4 linked regions of the Homo sapiens genome follow. The protein of the gene in region 3 purifies or fractionates together with the protein of the main gene of each other region. This does not show direct contact. Each region holds a gene or a part of one and is shown on either strand. Other genes may lie near its edges.

Region 1 (4,436 bases), on a different chromosome or scaffold from region 3:
ATACAAAATTAGCTGGGTGTGGTGGCGCATGCCTGTAATCCCAGCTATTCGGGAAGGCTGAGGCAGGAGAATCGCTTGAACCTGGGAGGCGGAGGTTGCAGTGAGCTGAGATTACGCCATTGCACTCCAGCCTGGGCAACAAGAGCAAAGCTCCGTCTCAAAAAAAGAAAAAAAAAAACCCCAGAAATATTAATTGGTATAATACCTAAGGAAAAGACTTTGAAAATACTGACAAAAATTGCAAATGTCAGCCTGGGCAACATAGCAAGACCTAGTCTCTACTAAAAATTTAAAAAATTAGCCTATAATCCCAGCTATTCAGGAGGCTGAGGCAGGAGAACAGCTTGAGCCCAGGAGTTTGAGCCACTGCACTGCAGCCTGGGTGACAGAGCAAGAGCCTGTGTTTTTTTTTTTTTTTTTTGAGACAGAGTCTCACTCTGTTGCCCAGGATGAAGTGCAGTGGCACGATCTCGGCTCACTGCAACCTTTGCCCCCCAGGTTCAAGTGATTCCTCTGCCTCAGCCTCCCGAGTAGCTGGGACTACAGGCATGCACCACCATGCCCGGGCAATTTTTGTATTTTTAGTAGAGACAGGGTTTCACCATATTGGCCAGGCTGGTCTCAAACTCCCGACCTCAGGTGATCCACCCGCCTCAGCCTCCCAAAGTGCTGGAATTACAAGCATGAGCCGCTGTGCCCGGCCACCAATTAATATTTCCATCAGCAAGAATGAGAGTGTTTCCCTACAATCTCATCACAGAATTAATAGTCAAACTTTTAGAATTTGCCAATCTGATAGGGCTGACCTCATGATCTGCCCGCCTCGGCCTCCCAAAGTGCTGGGATTACAGGCATGAGCCACTGTGTCCAACCTACAAGATCACGTCTTAAAAAAAATTTTAAAAAAAGGCCAGGCGTGGTGGCTCGTGCCTGTAATCCTAGCACTTTGCGAGGCCAAGCGAGCGGATTGCCTGAGCTCAGAAGTTCAAGAGCAGTCTGGGTAATACGGTGAAACCCTGTCTCTACTAAATACAAAAAATTAGCTGGGCATGCAAGGCAGGCACCTGTAATCCCAGCTACTCGGGATGCAGAGACAGAAGAATTGCTTGAACCTGGCAGGCAGAGGTGGCAGTGAGCCCCCACTGTACTCCAGCCTGGGCAACAGAGAATCCATCTCAAAGAAAAAAAAAAAGAAAGAAAGAAAAAATCGCAAATGCATATACCTTTGACCTAGCAAATCCATTTTTGGGGAATTTATCCTACAGACACTTGCATACATGTAAAAAGAGCTAAGTTCATGGTTATTTCATGAAGCATTATTTATAATAGCAAAAGAATGGGACCACCCAAACATCTATGATTGCTTTAAAAATCATGGTATATCAGCCAGATGCGGTGGCTCAAGCCTGTAATCCCAGCACTTTGGGAGGCTGAGGTGGGCGGATCACCTGAGGTCAGGAGTTCGAGACCAGCCTGACCAAGATGGAGAAACCCCATCTCTACTAAAAAAACACAAAATTAGCCAGGCGTGGTGGCACATGCCTATAATCCCAGCTACTTGGAAGGCTGAAGCAGGAGAATCGCTTGAACCCCGGAGGTGGAGGTTGCGGTGAGCCGAGATCACATCATTGCACTCCAGCCTGGGCAACGAGTGAAACTTCATCTCAAAAAAAAAAAAAAAAAAAAATCGTGGTAGATCGACACAATGCAGTATCACATAATTATAAAACACAAGGAAGGGCCAGGCACAGTGGCTCACGCCTGTAATCCCAGCACTTTGGGAGGCCGAGGCGGGCAGATCATCAGGTCAGGAGTTCAAGACCAACCTGGCCAACATGGTGAAACCCCGTCTCCACTAAAAATACAAAAATTAGCTGGGCATGATGGCGGACACCTGTAATCCCAGCTATTCAGGAAGCCGAGGCAGGAGAATCGCTTGAACCCGGGAGGCGGAGGTTGGAGTGAGCCAAGATTGCACCACTGCACTCCAGCCTGGGTGACAGAGAAAGACTCTGCCTCAAAAAAAAAAAAAAAAAAAGACATGGATGAAACTGCATGTATTGATATGGAAAGTTTGCCAAGGGATACTGTTGAGTGAAAAAGTAAGTATACTGTATATATCACGCCACGTTTTGGTTGAGAGAGAGAATATGAGAATCTACACTTATATTTGCTTTGCATAAAGTCTTTGGAAGAATATTAAAAATCCATGAACAGTGGCTACTTATGGGATAGGATGGTGTTATGAGCTGAATTGTGTGTGGCCCGCTGACCTCAAACTCATATATTCAAGTCCTAACCAGTACCTCAGAATGTGACCTTATTTTGAAATAGGGTTGCTACAGCTGTAGTTAAGATGAGGTCACTAGGGTGGGCCCTAATCCTTGTACTTTATTATACTTTCTGAGTTTTGAACCCAGATTCACTTTTCAAAAAGTTAAAAAATTTACCTCATGCAGGATCTGGATTTTATTTAAAAAAATAAAATAAAATTGGCCGGGCGTGGTGGCTCACACCTGTAATCCCAGCACTTTGGGAGGCCAAGCGGGGTGGATCACGAGGTCAGGACATCGAGACCATCCTGGCTAACACGGTGAAACCCTATCTCTACTAAAAATACAAAAAAAAAATTAGCTGGGCATGGTGGCGGGCGCCTGTAGTCCCAGCTACTTGGGAGGCTGAGGCACAAGAATGGCGTGAACCTGGGAGGCGGAGCTTGCAGTAAGCCGAGATCACACCACTGCACTCCGGCCTGCGTGGCAGAGTGAGACTGTCTCAAAAAAAAATAAAAATAAATAAATAAATAATAAAATTAGGCCAAGTGCAGTGACTCATGCCTGTAATCCCAGCACTGTGGGAGGCTGAGGCAGGCAGATCGCTTGAGCTCAGGAGGTCAAGACCAGCCTGGGCAATATGACAAAGCCCCGCCTCTACTAAAAATATAAAAAATTAGCCAGGTGTGGTGGTGGATGCCTGTAGTCTCAGCTACCTGGGAGGCTGAGGTGGGAGGATCTCTTGAGCCTGGGTGGCAGAGGTTGCAGTGAGCCAAGATCACGCCACTCCACTCTAGCCTGCACGACAGAGTGAGACCCTGTCTCAAATAAAATTTTAAAAATCTAATATAAAAAATAAAAAATTTAGGCCGGGCACAGTGGCTCACACCTGTAATCCCAGCACTTTGGGAGGCTGAGGTGGGTGGATCACGAGGACAGGAGATCAAGACCATCCTGGCTAACACGGCGAAACCCTATCTCTACTAAAAATACAAAAAAAAAAAAACTAGCGCGTGGTGGCAAGCGCCTGTAGTCCCAGCTACTCGGGAGGCTGAGGCAGGAGAATGGTTATGAACCCAGGAGGCAGAGCTTGCAGTGAGCCAAGATTGTGCCACTGCACTCCAGCCTGGGCGACAGAGCGAGACTCCGTCTCAAAATAAATAAATAAATAAATAAATAAATAAATAAATAAATAAATAATTTGCCAAAATATTATCAAATGAACAGTAGCAGTACAATCCAATAGAGAGACTCTTAATTTTAAGAAGTCAAAGGATAAAATGTGGAAAATCGACATATCCCTTCAGTAACAAAATCTAATTCACTGGCTTGTAAACAGCTGAAGTTTACACGAAATGACAGCTCTTTGTACAATGCAGCTATGAGTGCAAAGCAGCGGCCCACATGGAACTCTTTTCTAGCTTGTAGTTACTAGTGACTCACCATTGGTATCTGCTTTGACTTTCTCTTCCTTGATCTGCAAATTGGTCATCTGAATAGAAATAAAAGAAAACAGAGTTAAGCAAAGGACCCAATAAAAGGAAGGTCCCTAAGAAAAGAAAAACTTTCTAGTAAAAGTCTAGTGTGAAACTTTCAGCACCAGTATTCAGGGAGTCGGTTTGTTCCCTCAAAGTAGAGTTGCTGAAAGTCTGTGTGAAACCATCATTTCAAATATCTTCAACAGCCTTAAAACAAGGGGAGGGGTGGACTAAATATAATGGTTGGGGGGAAAGTTTCAGAAAACCTCAACCTCTGCTCATCTCCCAACTCAAGTTCTTTCTATTTATTTATTTTCTGAGACAAGGTCTCACTCTGTCACCTAGGCTGGAGTACAGCAGCACGATCATGGCTCACTGCGGCCTCAACCTCCTGGGTTCTAGCGATCCTCCCACCTCAGCCTCCCTAGTAGCTGGGAACACAGGTGTGGACCACCATGCCTACTTGAACTCAAACTCGAACTCCTGGGCTCAAGCAATCCTCCCACCTTGGCCTCCCAAAGCACTGGGATTACAGGTGTGAGTCACTGCACCCAGCCTTCTGTCACTTTCATTGGTTATCTCTACACTAGAGAGCAGAACCACATGATAACCTAAGACCATGAATCATTTATTAAGTGAAGGTACACAAGTCTACATGGTGAAAAAAAAGGTCTTCTCCAACTAT
Region 2 (4,436 bases), on a different chromosome or scaffold from region 3:
CAGCCAGTTCAGTTGTGCCTTAGTTTATGCCAAAAATGTCTGACTGAAAATTTACATGTATGCCAGGAAAAAAGCCTAAAATACATTTGAACACTATTTAAAACAATTCTATGAGAATTCCTCTTTTAAGAAGCCTGTATCTCCTGATCTTCACCTCTTTAATTTTTTAAATAAAAGTATCTGGCCAGGCACGGTGGCTCACGCCTGTAATCCCAGCACTCTGGGAGGCCAAGGTGGGTGGATCACCTGAGGTCAAAAGTTCGAGACCAGCCTGGCCAACATGGTGAAACCCCATCTCTACTAAAAGTACAAAAATTAGCCAGGTGTGGTGGCATGCATCTGTAATCCCAGCTACTTGGGAGGCTGAGGCAGAAGAATTGCTTGAGCCCAGGGAGGCAGAGGTTGCAATGAGCCGAGATCACGCCCCTGCACTCCAGCCTGGGCAACAGAGCAACACTGTCTCAAAAAAAAAAAAAAAAAAAATCTATTAAATTCTTAAAGTATGCTGTTTCCAGATTATAATAATTTCCAATTACATTGTGTACTTAAAGCTAGCCTGAGATTTATTTCTAAAATAGCAAAATGAAACAAATCTCACATTACTAAGCTTATCATAATCAGTTAATATATCAGATGATGAGATTTCCTATTAGAATTTAGGGCTTTTATGGAGTGACCACAGAACTGTCATCAAAGTTTCAATTATGATGGAAGCAAAACTTCCTAAAGCTTCAAATCACAAAACTCAGCCAGTATAAGGAGGAAAAGAGTACCTTCAGGTTCCAAAGCCAATGCCTCAAATGTTCAAATGACTGGGTATTACCACTGCTCTTTTTTTAATTTTCTGCCCACTAATGTAAAGAATTTGTCATAAATTGTGCCCTTCTGACAAATGATTGTAAAATATGGAACTATTTCACTACTAAGTCTTGTTTTAGAGGGTAGCCAATCCCCCCACCATACCTCCACCAGGAGCTCTTTAAGGAAACTGCTAATTAACGTTGCTATCTTGTCTCCATCTATGAGATGAAAGTGGCCATCTGCATCATGGTAGTAATAAACAATTCTGTCTGCATCTCCATCAAAAGAACAGCATCTTTCATTGGACTTAATTTCCATTCCTAGCACACAGGATAATTTAACATGCATTTCAGTCTAAGAATTTATTATAAAGAGTTTTAGAATTTTCTCTTAAAATTATCCACCTAAAAATCAATGTCTTAATCTTAAATAGTGTATAATCTTTAAATAGTACATAGTTTATTAGTGGTTTTTACAGGTCAAATTCTTTCACTGCAAAGTGAAAAAAGGAGCATTCAAAATCTATGCTGATATTTGCTATAATACTACCATAAAATTCCACTTTATAAGCAGGTTGGTTTGGCTAGACAGGTGTCCCATAAAGGTTTTTTGAAAGCTACATGTATTTCTGAATGTAATTTACCTAGGACCGTGATCTCCTTTACATAGAAAAAATAATCAGCACTAGATGATGTATGTGCTTTAATTCTAACAGAAATGATTTTTATTTGTTCATACCACCAATAAAAAGAAACACTGATAATTAAGAGCAAAGAATTATAACTTTGAGAGATAACTGGCCTGTGAAATTTACATAAAGTTGCTGAAATCTCAGCAATTGTCACATCAAATTTATTAGAAAATTTGGCTATTCCTTAGCCATGACAGCAGCAGAGTGACAAATTCAACATGAGACAACTAAGAAGTAAAAGGCTTTTGTCAGGAATGGGATCATAAGATTGATGAAAGGACATGATGCAAGCTTCAGGAAAGCAAGGACTATGGTTTTGTTCATACTGTAGTCCCAAAGCCTAGAGCATAGAGAGTAAGAGCTCAGTATTTAAGAAATGGATAAATAAGTGGCAGAACTGAACTGTCAAGTAAATGTCAAAACAAGCAATTCAATGAAAAGGAGCTCAAATTGGTTGACTACACTGACATTTTAAATGCTTACTAAGTAAAGCATAATAACATGAATGAATGAGGCAACTGGATGAAGTCTGTAGAGTTCCAGAATGCATGTCCTATTTTAGGGGAGCAGCATCTATCTGACTGTAGTGGACTAATGCCATGTGTGAACATTTTCTGATTTTGGTAAAGAGATGCTAGAGATTCCAATATATAAGAGAAGTCACGGAATTTTTAAACAGTGGCACACAGACAAACACACAAATGCAGCCAGCCAAACAAAACATATCTGCAAGTCAGGTTTGGCCTAAGCAAATAATTTAGGGTCTATAATGCAGATAAATCCAGAACACCTCTTACTACAACTAAAATCTGAAGAAAAGTCTTCCTCCTATTCTGCACTGAGTGGAAAACACTGATTGCTAACAACTGTATAAGCAGAGTTACATTTGCTTTCCATAGTGTATTTAATTCAGATAAGGTATCTAATAATACTTACTATGCTCCCCTGTAGATCTGTGATTCTCAAAAAGGGATCCCCAGACAAGCACTGGGAACAAAGCCTGCAAACTTGATAGAAATGCAAATTTCTATCATATGCAAATCCTATGCCAGACCTCCAGAAACTCAGAAGTGGAGCCCAGGAATCTGTGTGCTAACAAGCCCTCAAAGTGATTCTGACACATGCCAGTTTGAGAACCACTGCTCTAGAATGCCATTTCCTGACTTTGCTTTCCCCACCTGATTTCCTGTAGACTATGAGGAATGGTGTGATTTACAGGCAGAGAGAGCAGACCATGTTTCAATGGCTCTGAGAGTGGGAAGACTTCTCAATGTCTAAATGTGGCAGAGCCAGGAATAGCTGCAAGATTCTTAACTCACTTTACCACCTTAGTTTATAAGTGAGATTGGCTTCAAAGAGCATTAAAAACAAATTTTTGCAGTGCTAGTACGACATACCCTGTGGAGGTTTCTGATGACTTTTCACAAAGTCAGCTCCACATAAATGATTGAGTTTGCCCTTGGACCCATCATTAAACAGCTGAACTGACAGGCCCTGTGAGAAGTAGTGTTCCATTTCCCTTAGCTTCAGGGCCCCTATGCCATTTGCACAGTCAACCTTAAGTGATCTGTATTCATCTCCACTGCAAGAAGCCTACAAAGGAAAAAGACACATGGAAGAAAAATTTCAAGTTATAAAAATAAATGTGAAATATAAAGCATATATACATATGTGCATATGTAAATATTTAGTTAACTCATTTTAATTTTTAAATTTTATCAATTATAATTGTGTTCATTTTTCAATTTTTAAAATTATAAAACACTAAAGTAAAATTTAAAAACACCTGGAACAACAGAATAGTTTTGCTGATTGAACAACTTATAGCATAGAGCTTTATTAGAATTTAGTCTCAATTAACAGGGTCTCTTAAAAGTAATATTACAAGGGAGCCATTCAAATGCAAGAATAAGCACACAGACAAATGGGCAGTAATGACATGTCATTCTTTTTATAGTATGTGACATCATCATCAGGCAGATTTGTTTTTTTTCTAATTGTCTCCTCTCCCAGCTATCCTCACCCCAAATTATAAGTTCTATGAGAGCAAGGGCTTTTAGTTAATTGTGCCTGGTAAGGACATATACTCAATATTTGTTGATCAAACGAATTATACTTCTCAAATCTCTCTACATTTAACAAGCCAATATACCTAGAAGAAAATCTCAATAGTACATGCCTCAGGTATTAAGCCAACAGCACCTACATTAACTAAGATCAAATTCATCTGAATGAATACTTATGATACCATCGTCAAGACCCCCACCATGTTTGCTTCCCCAAAGTATCTCAGAATGTACTACATAATTTGCCAAGTAAACGCCAATGTAAGTTAGCAGGATACATAGACCAGAACCTTGTGTAGCCCTAGAGAAAAACAAAAAAGGAGATATGCAGCATCTTTGGAAAAGGAAAGAGGAGGCATGACAAACAAGATAATTTGTTCAGTAGACCATGTTACTTTATTCATTTGTTTAACTTTAACCATGTTCAATAAACTTTTCACCTGTTTGGTGAGTTCCACAAAAGCCTTAGAGAGTTTCTGGTAGTAACCTTCTATAGTTGCCTTTCCATATCGGCCACCCGTGTTTCGACAATACACCATGTAGTGCAGCTGGGGTGTTGTTAACAAGCCATAATCTGTCATAGAAATACAAAAAGCAATTCACCGCATTTCTTAACAAAGAGAAAAAAGTTTAAATGCATTCATGTGTAGGAATTTCAGGGTGACAAATCCTTTTGTGTCATCTCAGACATCTTAGAAAACATAAAAATGATCTTAAAAAGAAATATAAATGACTATAAGAAGCCAAAAAACCAATCATTACATATAAACAGGTAACAATGTAAATATAAAGCAATACAGACAAGTAATAATTGAGTTCTGTTTCCAGTAACATTGCAAACTACATAATTCAGATGAATCATCCTCCTGGAAACAACC
Region 3 (5,336 bases):
AGGTGTGAGCCACTGCACCGGGCCTGTCAAGGAATTTTTGATAGTATGCCAAGACCATTCGATGGGGGAAAAGGACAGTCATTTCAACAAATGGTGCTAGGAAAACTAGATACGCCATGCAAAGAATGAAATTGAAAACAGGAAATCAATAGAGAAAATCAAAAAAACCAAAAGCCGGTTCTTTGAAAAGATCAATAAAATCGATACACCGCTAGCCAGGCTAACTTAAACAGAAGACACAAATTACTAATACAGAAGTGAAAGAGAAGACATTGCTACAGATCCCACAGACATTAAAAGGATAATAGAAGAATATTCATATCCACAAATGTGATTGATCAATTCCTTGAAAGACACAGACTGCCAAAACTCACACAAGAAGAAACAGACAATCTGAATAGGCCTACATATATTAAAGAAATTGAGTGGTGGCAGATGCCTGTAGTCCCAGTTACTCGGGAGGCTGAGGCAGAAGAATGGCATGAGCCCGGGAGGCAGAGCTTGCAGTGAGTCGAGATTGTGCTACTGTACTCCAGCCTGGGTGACAGAGCGAGACTCCGTCTCAAAAAAAAATAAATAAATAAAATAACAATAATAAATTGAATCAATAATTAGTAACCTTCCAAAACAGAAAGCACCCAGCCTAGATGGGTTTATTGGTGAATTCCACACATATAATGGAATATTATTCAGCCTTAAAAGGAAGGAACTTATATAAGGTACCTAGAGTAGTCAAATTCACAGAGACAAAAAGTAGAATGGTGGTTCCCACGGGGCGATGAAGAGGGGAAAGTAAAGAGTTGCTGTTTCAGGTTTGCAAGATGGAAAAGTTTGGGAGATTAGTTGTACAATAATGTGAATGTACTTAATGCTCCTAAGCTATACATTTTAAAATAGTTAAGATGGTAATTTTTTTGTTGTGTGTGTGTGTGTGTGTATGTGTGTGTGTGTGTGTGTGTGTGTGTGTGTGTGTGTGTGTATATTTTTTTTTGAGACAGAGTTTCGCTCTTGTCACCCAGGCTGGAGTACAATGGTGCAATCTCAGCTCACTGCTGCCTCTGCCTCCCAGCTTCTAGCGATTCTCCTGCCTCAGCCTCCAGAGTAGCTGGGATTACAGGCACGCACCACCACGCCCAGCTAATTTTTGTATTTTTAGTAGAGGGGGTTTCACTATGTTGGCCAGGCTGGTCTTGAACTCCTGACCTCAGGTGATCTGCCCGCCTCGGCCTCCCACAATGCTGGGATTACAGGCGTGAGCCACCGCGCCCGGCCTGTTATGTATATTTTAACCACAATTTTTTTTAAAGTGGTGTGAGGGGCAGAGCTGTGCAGTCAAAAGGCTTACTATGTCCTCGCTGGGTCAGAACAGGCCCTGGAGGAAGAATCGTAAACCACCCATCCCCCACCACCACCCCACACATCGCCTGGCCAAGATGGTGAAACCCTGTCTCTACTAAAAATACAAAAATTAGCCGGGCATGGTGACACGGACCTGTAATCCCAGCTACGCGGGAGGCAGAGACAGGAGAATCGCTTGAACCCAGGAGGCAGAGGGTGCAGTGGAGGTTCAAGAATCGCTTGAACCCAGGAGGTGGAGATTGCACCACTGCACTCCAGCCTGGGCAACAGAACAAGACTCCATCTCAAAAAAAAAAAAAAAAAAAAAAAAAGGACTTTCTAGCCTACAACTTCACCCCCAAAGTGCACATGGGGGCAACAACCGAAGCCACTGGCCAACGAGTTTTATTCTTTGTCCCTCTCCTTCCCCCAAAAACATCCCTGGGCAAATGTTGGGGCTTTGTAGGTCCTATCAAGCCCTCTGGGGATCACGAACAGGCTGTGACAGGCAGGGCAGGCCCTCGAGAAAGGTGCTGTGAGTTAGGAGCTCCGAGTTCCGCCTGGGTTTGCTGCGATGGGTCCCTGCTTCCCTCTCTTCTCTGGACCCTGCGCCCAAGGTACAGGGAGATAGACGGGAGTGGGTGGGCGCCTGTGCTGCAGCTCTGGGACTCCAAGCAGTTCTCCCTTGGGCAACACCAAACAAACACAGGTGGACGGCCTGACAGCAGTGGGGGCTGCAGGACAGCCTGACCTGGCCTGAGTCCCTGGGCCAGCCCTGCATATCCAGCCTCAGGCCTCAAGCATGCAACACTGGGGCCTTGCCCTTGGGTGACGCGGACTGGGGAGCACCCTAGACTTGGAGTTATCTGGGATTCTTCCTCCCAAAGCAGTGCTGGGGCCCCACTCCTCCCAGGTTGCGCTCTGACCTCACCTCCCAGGGGGTGGCCGTGGTGCGAGCCTGGCCCGGGGAACGCATACCTGCAAGGTCTGCTCGTTACTATGCATGAGGTAGGCTATGATGGCGGCACAACTGCGGCTGATACCTTGGGTGGAAAAGATCAGAATGACAGAGCCAAGGTGATGGTGAATTTCTGCAAAAAGAAGTGGGGGGTTGGGTCATGCCTGGCCCTCCTCCCTGTGGGCCTGGGTTGCTGTCAGACACTGGCCTCCATGGGCCCGTGGTCCAAGCATGAGTTCAAAACCAGCCCACGTGACCTCGGCAAGTCCCATGATTTCTCTGGGAGCCCATTTCATTGTCTAGCAAGTGGGCATCCCTCAGACCTGGCTGGAAGTTCCAGAGAATCATGCCTGGGCAACCAGCATCACCAGGCAAAGACCTTCTCCTGAACTCCAGGTTTCTAGCCCAGGAAGCTCTGCTACCAACTGGCCTCCCAGTATGGGGCGGACAGGACCATCGTCATCCCAAAAACAGTCAGGAGCTGACAGAGCCAGTGTAGCCTGAGTGCCAATCCTGACTGCCACTCACTGGCCGTGGGGCTTGGGCAAGTTACTTCCTTTCCTTTCCTTCCCCCATCTCCTCTCTTCTTTCCCCTTTCTTCTCCTCTCTACTCCTCTCTCTCCTTTCCTTCTTTCTTTGTTGAGACAGAGTTTCACTCTTGTTGCCCAGGCTGGAGTGCAGTGGCACAATCTCAGTTCACTGCAACCTCTGCCTCCTGGGTTCAAGTGATTCTCCTGGCTTAACCTCCCGAGTACCTGGGATTACAAGCACCTGCCACCACGCCCAGCTAATTTTTTGTATTTTTAATAGAGATGGGGTTTCACCATGTTGGCCAGGCTGGTCTCCAACTCCAGACCTCAGGTGATCTGCCTGCCTTGGCCTCCCAAAGTGCTGGGATTATAGGCATGAGCCACTGCGCCTGATTTTTTTTTTTTTTTTTTTTTTTTCAATATAGACATGCAGTCTCACTATGTTGTTCAGGCTGGTCTTGAACTCCTGACCTCGGGTGATCTGCCCACCTTGGCTTCTCAAAGTACTGGAATGACAGGTAAGAACCACTGTGCCCAGCCTATTTTTATTTATTTTATTTTAGAGACTGGGTCTTGCTCTGTTGCCCAGGCTGGAACGCAGTGGTGTAATCACAGCTCACTGCAACCTTGAACTCCTGGGCTCAAGTAACCCTCCGCCTTAGCCTTCTGAGTAGCTGGGACCACAGGCATGTGCCACCATATCCAGCTAACTTTTTTGTACAGATGGGGTCTCACAATGTTGCCCGGGCTGGAGGGTAAGTTACTTGAGGCCACGGTGTCCTCATCTGGAAAACGGGATCACAGTATACTACCTACTTCATACAGTTTGGTTTTGTTCTGTGCTGAGCCCAGTGCCTGGCACAGAAATATCAGCTCTAATCACAGCACCCCTGAAGCTGTGAGTCCTGCCCAGGGAGAGGAAATCTAAGCTGGCACCCGAGGCTGGTCTGGCAACCCTCAGGAACTGAAGATAAGCCTACCAAGTGCAAAATCACAGACTGCCAGGGCTGAAGAAGGACGCAGAGATGACGATGGCCACCTTCCTCACCATCTGAATAAAGGAACTGAGCATGCAGTTTAATTTATTGACTGGCTCAGTGCTACCCAGGGAGGCAGGCTAGATGGGGTCCCTCCTTGGGCCACAAGGCTCTGCCATCTCGAGGTGGGACACATGGGAAGTCTCAGCCTCAGGCCCTGGTTGAGCAACATTTGACATCTACTGGGCAAATAAAGGATGGTTGGGGCTGGGTGTGGTGGCTCACGCCTGTAATCCCAGTACTTTGGGAGGCTGAGGTGGGTGGATTGCTTGAGCTCAGGAGTTCAAGACCAGTTTGGGCAACATGGCAAAACCCCATCTTTACTAAAAATGCAAAAATTAGTTGGACGTGGTGGTGCATGCCTGTAGTCCCAGCTACTTGGGAGGCTGAGGTAGGAGGATTGCTTGAGCCCAGGAAGTAGAGATTGCAGTGAGCCAAGATTGTGCCACTACACTCCAGCCTGGGTGAACAAGCCAGACCCCGTCTCGAAAAATAAAATTTAAAATAAGGGATGGTTGGGCCAAAATGCCATGCTCCAGCCCCTGGTACAGTGGCTCAGGCCAGGAGCTGTTGGTGCCAGACAGGCAGGCATGGGGTGGGGACTCTGACCTGACTCAGCCCTGCTCTCTCTACAGATCTTACTCTCCTCTGGCAATCTGGAGCCCCAGGAATGAGTAAAAAATCCACTCTTGATGAGTTAAGTAACTGGTGGGCATCACTTGGGTGTGGTGGCTCATGCCTATAATCCCAGCACCTTGAGAGGCTGAGGTAGGAAGATCGCTTGAGGCCAGGAGTTCAAGACCTGCCTAGGCAACATAGCAAGACCCCAACTCCACCAACCAACCAACAAACAAAAACAAAGAAAATCTTGGAAGTCAGAACTGAAAGAGCTTTGTAGTCTTCCTTCCATTCCACCGACATCCCACAGACCAAGGATGAAGGCGGGGATGGAGAGAGATAGATTTACTACTGGTCCCCAGAGCTCAGCCCAGAGCCTCCATGAGCATGTGCACTTGTGGGTAGCCATCACTCTCATTTTACAACAAGCCCAGAAGGGCACAGCCATCTAGCCAGGGCCAGAGCCTTGGGCCCCACTGCCCCCGAGGTAAACACCACGGTTGCTCGTTTCACTGAGGGCTCCCCAGAAGTTGGACGTGTCCTGGAGCTTGTCCCACCCAGATGGAGCATATGCCGAGCTGGGCCCTTTCTCTCTAGAGCATGGGGAAATCACGGTCCAGAATAAGCCTGTGAAGGAGGCTCCACTGCCCCTCTGCTTCCCAGACACAGGCCAGTTGCTACCCGGCCAAGGAACGCTCCTTACCAATGAAGTGACACATGTGGCGTAAGAAGGGAAGAATCTGGGCTTCCGGGGAATCTTCTATCCGGATGTGCAGAAGCTTGTCAGCATCGCCTGCAAAACTACACGGAAGGACCACACAGGTCATCAGGTGGAATGCAGAATGCAGGCATCCC
Region 4 (4,436 bases), on a different chromosome or scaffold from region 3:
ATGTGGATACCTGGACTATCACTTTTAGGCCAGAGATGGAGGGGAATGGCTAACAATTAGGTATTATTTGGGCAACACATTAGACAGAGAATACAGGACACAAGAAAAGCTGTGCTGACTTTAGCCTCTTGGTGCCCTAGAATTTTTGTCTTACTGCAATTAGGCTGGGCACAGTGGCTCACACCTGTAATCCCAGCACTTTGAGAGACTGAGGCAGGAGGATCGCTTGAGCCCAGGAGTTGAGACCAGCCTGGGTAACATGGCAAGACCTCATCTCTACAAATAATAAAGAAATTTAGATGGACGTGGTGGTGCATGCCTATAGCACCAGCTAATCTGGAAGCTGAGGTGGGAGGATCACCTGGGAGGTCGAGGCTGCAATGAGCCGTGATCTCACCACTGCACTCCATCCTGGGCAACAGAGTGAGATCCTGTCTCGAAAAAAATTAAAAAATAAATAGAATAACAAAGCAGTCTAGTCCCATGGAGAGATAGGAAGGATCCTCAAATGTGGAAGACCCTAACCCAGACAGGACTGTGGCTGTCTAACAAACACCAGTCTCAAAAAAAGCAAGCTTAAGAATGAACTTATTATAGTATCAATGCGGTGATTACAAATTACTCAATATTTCCTAAAGACCATGAGAACTCCAGAACCCATTCTTACACAGGCCCTGTGGAAGAATCCAAGCAGGAATAATTGGATTATTTCCAGCCAGTGACTTTCAGGAGGACCACATATCTTCAATGTCTTCACATTGTATCTGAAAAATGTATCTGAAGCACTCAAACACCAAGTCTACTCAAATACGCTTCCCAAGCAGCTTTTCTGTACATCTCTGCTGCTTCCAGACGATCAGCTGCTGAGATTATGCCACGACCTACAATGATGATATCGGAACCTCGTTTGCCAATAACTTCTTGTGGGCTATTGTACTGTTGGCCAAGATTATCTCCTGCAAGAAACACAAAAATTGTTGTTTCACATAATACAAAAATCAGAAAACCTGTCACATGACTTCTCTGAAAAAGTATCTAACCAGCTTTAAATAAAAACATGCCCCTACTTTCGTTCCCCTTTTGTACAGCAACTGCGTAAAAACAGGAGCTGAAGAGACTCACTGGGTAGGCCAGAGACGTCAAATGGAGAAAGATGATCACCAACTCCTTTTCAATGGTAAAGTTTATTTTATTTATTTATTTATTTATTTATTTTTATTTATTTATTTTTTTGAGACGGAGTCTCGCTCTGTCACCCAGGCTGGAGTGCAGTGGTGCTATCTCGGCTCACTGCAAGCTCTGCCTCCCAGGTTCATGCCATTCTCCTGCCTCAGCCTCCCGAGTAGCTGGGACTACAGGCGCCTGCCACCACGCCTGGCTAATTTTTTGTATTTTTTAGTAGAGATGGAGTTTCACCGTGTTAGCCAGGATGGTCTCGATCTCCTGACCTCATGATCCGCCCGCCTCAGCCTCCCAAAGTGCTGGGATTACAGGCATGAGCTACTGCGCCCCGCCCTATTTATTTATTTATTTTTTTGAGACAGAGTCTTGCTCTGTCACCCAGGCTGGAGTGCAATGGCACAATCTCAGCTCGCTGCAACCCCCGCCTCCCGGATTCAAGCGATTCTCCTGCCTCAGCCTCCCGAGTAGCTGGGATTAAAAGCGTGCACCACCACGCCCGGCTAATTTTTGTATTTTGAGTAGAGACAGGGTTTCACCATGTCGGCCAAGCTGGTCTTGAACTCCTGACCTCAGGTGATCTGCCCACCTCGGCCTCACAAAGTGCTGGGATTACGAGCGTGAGCCCCCGCACCCAGCCTTATTTATTTTATCATTATTTTTTCATGTAATTTTTTTCCAGAAGCATAAATTCAAGTTGCCCTAAATATTCACCCCCTCAATGTCAAATTTTAGATCATCTGTAGCTTAACAATATATTAAAAAAAGAAGTAAAACTCATATGTTGCAAAGAAAGGTTCAATATCAAAAAAATACAATAAAGATTGGCCTCACAATTGAAGAAAATTTTAGCACACATCTTAGAATCACCACAAGGCACTGCTGAGCAAGTCTAACCTGACCACTACCATATACAAGAACCCCATCAAGTGGTCACACAGACTATCCATAAACCCGAATCCTTAAATTTTGCTTTTTTATTAAATTCCGCTGTTTCAGAAGCATTCTGTTAAATGGCTTATTATCTTCCAAATCCAAGATACTTTAAGTATTCTTAAAAGCCTAGACCCTAACTATAATATCTAGTCAAACAATTATTAGGGCTTACGAATAAGGGCTTATAAGTACAGAGTGTTTACTCTGTGCCAAGACATTGTGTTAAATATTCTACATGTTATCTCATTAAAGCATCTTGATTACCTTATGAGGTCAATACTGTTATCATCCCCATTTTACAGACAATTAGACTAAAAGAAGTAAACTGACTTGTCCAAAGATACATAGTTACCAAAGGGCTCATTCATTATTGTTCTAGACTAAGAAGGCTTTTCTTAAGCAAGTGTATAATAATATGCAAAGTTTTATTTTGCCTGCCATGGGTAAAGAAGCATTTTTGGAAGAGCCACGACCAGTGACCAGATTTACCTCCTGCTTCCAACTGAACTCCTGGAGTCAAGTGAAGAAATTCTGGTTTCATGCTTACTCGGGAGCCAGAAATAAAACCAACAACAAATTCAGAGTGCTCCTCAGCCATTCTAACCTAAATGGAATGTAATAGGACATATTATAAGAAAACAGTTAATCACACAGAATAAAAGTAAAAATATGCTCTATTTTTTCAAAACTTAAAAAAAAAAAAAAAAGACATGAGGTCTCCCTATGTTCCCTGGCTGGTCTTGAACCCCTGGGCTCAAGGGATCCTCCTACCTTGGCCTCCCAAAGTGCTGGGGTTACAGTTGTAAGTCACCATGCCTGGCTTATGCTCTATTATCTAGTTAGAAACTTTGCTGTATTATAGATGCCTTTTCTCATTCCATATATATAAAGTTACTATATCTGAAACAGGTCATCTTAGATAGAAACCATAATAAAACACATCTGCTTCATTAAGACTCTGAGATGACCCTTTCCCTTCCCTTCCCGCAATAAACCATACGTAAAGCAGAAATCCTATACTATATGCATCTAAAATCAAGATGCTGCATAATTTCTTATTTCTAATAATGCTTGGTGACCCACCTACTTCCAAAAAGGATTTGAGGCGAGTACTCTAGAACATATTATAATGGTATGAAACCACATTCAAGGCTTACTGACTATCTACAGACGGGGTACTCCATATCCAAAGGCAGCTGTCATGTAAAGAACAGCTACGCTTTCAAGAGCTAAAGAAATCTCACCTCTACCACTTTCCCTCTTCTGTAACATCAACTGGTCTCCCCAATTTCTATACTATTATCTCACATTCATAAAAGTCTCTTTAGAAGGTCTGCCTGGCTTTCTGATTCGGTAGGTACTTTCCCCGAGACGTGACTCCCATACTTCCCTTCTTATTTGATACTTCCCGGAGACCAGACTCAGTACCACCACTGCACTCCAGCCTCGGTACTTCGAGACCTGAGACACACATTGATACATTCATTCTTGCCACCAAGTACTACTGCCAACAAACAAGTCATGTCTTGTCCTTGAGCCAGACCCAGACTCCCAGAATGCCAAATATTAAAACTGACTCATGGCCCCTGTGATTTTGAGACTTGGGAAATCAGACAGTTATAGTCAATTCAGGGATAGGGTTAAAACCTGACTGTAGGGCCATATGAGTTAAGTCTCCAAATAGTCTGAAATAATATGAAAAAATGGAAATCCTTTACTTCTAGAATCTTCACATGGGGATTGTCTTGGGGATTTCATTTTTAAAAAAATCATGGGGATTTTCTTGGGGCTTTTTATTTTTAATTTTTTTTGACAGGCTCTTACTCTTGCCCAGGCTGAGGTAAAGTGGCATGATCATGGCTCCCTGCAGCCTTGAACTTCAAGCTCAAGCGATCCTCCCACCTCAGCCTCCCAAGCAGCTGGGACTATAGGCACGTACCACCATGCCTGGTTATTTTCTTTTTCATTTTTTTGTAGAGACGAGATCTCACTATGACGTCCAACTCCTGGCCTCAAGCAATCCTCCCGCCTTGGCCTCCCAAAGTGCTAGGATTACAGGTGTGAGCAACTGCGCCCAGCCCCCTATGGCAATTTTTTTAAAGTAATATTATATTCTAAAATATCTGACAAGAATAAGAGAAAGCCACTGCATGTGGGCTGCTGTCATGGGAATGTGCATCTCTGTAGGACTTGGGAGATTCTGAGAAACTGCATGTCTGGGAAGCTCTTCTCATCTTCTCTCAATTCATGGTAAGATGAAAAAGACATTATCTTAAAGTCCTGGTAGATTTAGTAAGTGTTTGTTTGACTAACTATCTGGG

Evidence for each region. Proteins that work in one complex are often made in the same cells at the same time.
Region 1: the proteins of STYXL1 (region 3) and DDX19A purify together in Homo sapiens (affinity purification with mass spectrometry, with the first as the bait; one large-scale study listed by BioGRID). This does not show direct contact.
Region 2: the proteins of STYXL1 (region 3) and PGM3 purify together in Homo sapiens (affinity purification with mass spectrometry, with the first as the bait; one large-scale study listed by BioGRID). This does not show direct contact.
Region 4: the proteins of STYXL1 (region 3) and UMPS purify together in Homo sapiens (affinity purification with mass spectrometry, with the first as the bait; one large-scale study listed by BioGRID). This does not show direct contact.

The regions. Positions count from the first base shown.
Region 1 is NC_000016.10:70,349,886-70,354,321, reverse strand, and holds part of DDX19A (ATP-dependent RNA helicase DDX19A), read right to left. Parts: intron 3,766-4,436; coding exon 3,717-3,765; intron 1-3,716. UniProt on the Homo sapiens protein: ATP-dependent RNA helicase involved in mRNA export from the nucleus.
Region 2 is NC_000006.12:83,178,847-83,183,282, forward strand, and holds part of PGM3 (phosphoacetylglucosamine mutase), read right to left. Parts: intron 4,133-4,436; coding exon 3,999-4,132; intron 3,086-3,998; coding exon 2,890-3,085; intron 1,122-2,889; coding exon 964-1,121; intron 1-963. UniProt on the Homo sapiens protein: Catalyzes the conversion of GlcNAc-6-P into GlcNAc-1-P during the synthesis of uridine diphosphate/UDP-GlcNAc, a sugar nucleotide critical to multiple glycosylation pathways including protein N- and O-glycosylation.
Region 3 is NC_000007.14:75,998,574-76,003,909, forward strand, and holds part of STYXL1 (serine/threonine/tyrosine-interacting-like protein 1), read right to left. Parts: intron 5,283-5,336; coding exon 5,185-5,282; intron 2,430-5,184; coding exon 2,317-2,429; intron 1-2,316.
Region 4 is NC_000003.12:124,740,435-124,744,870, reverse strand, and holds part of UMPS (uridine 5'-monophosphate synthase), read right to left. Parts: intron 2,720-4,436; coding exon 2,605-2,719; intron 957-2,604; coding exon 787-956; 3' UTR 1-786. UniProt on the Homo sapiens protein: Bifunctional enzyme catalyzing the last two steps of de novo pyrimidine biosynthesis, orotate phosphoribosyltransferase (OPRT), which converts orotate to orotidine-5'-monophosphate (OMP), and orotidine-5'-monophosphate decarboxylase (ODC), the terminal enzymatic reaction that decarboxylates OMP to uridine monophosphate (UMP).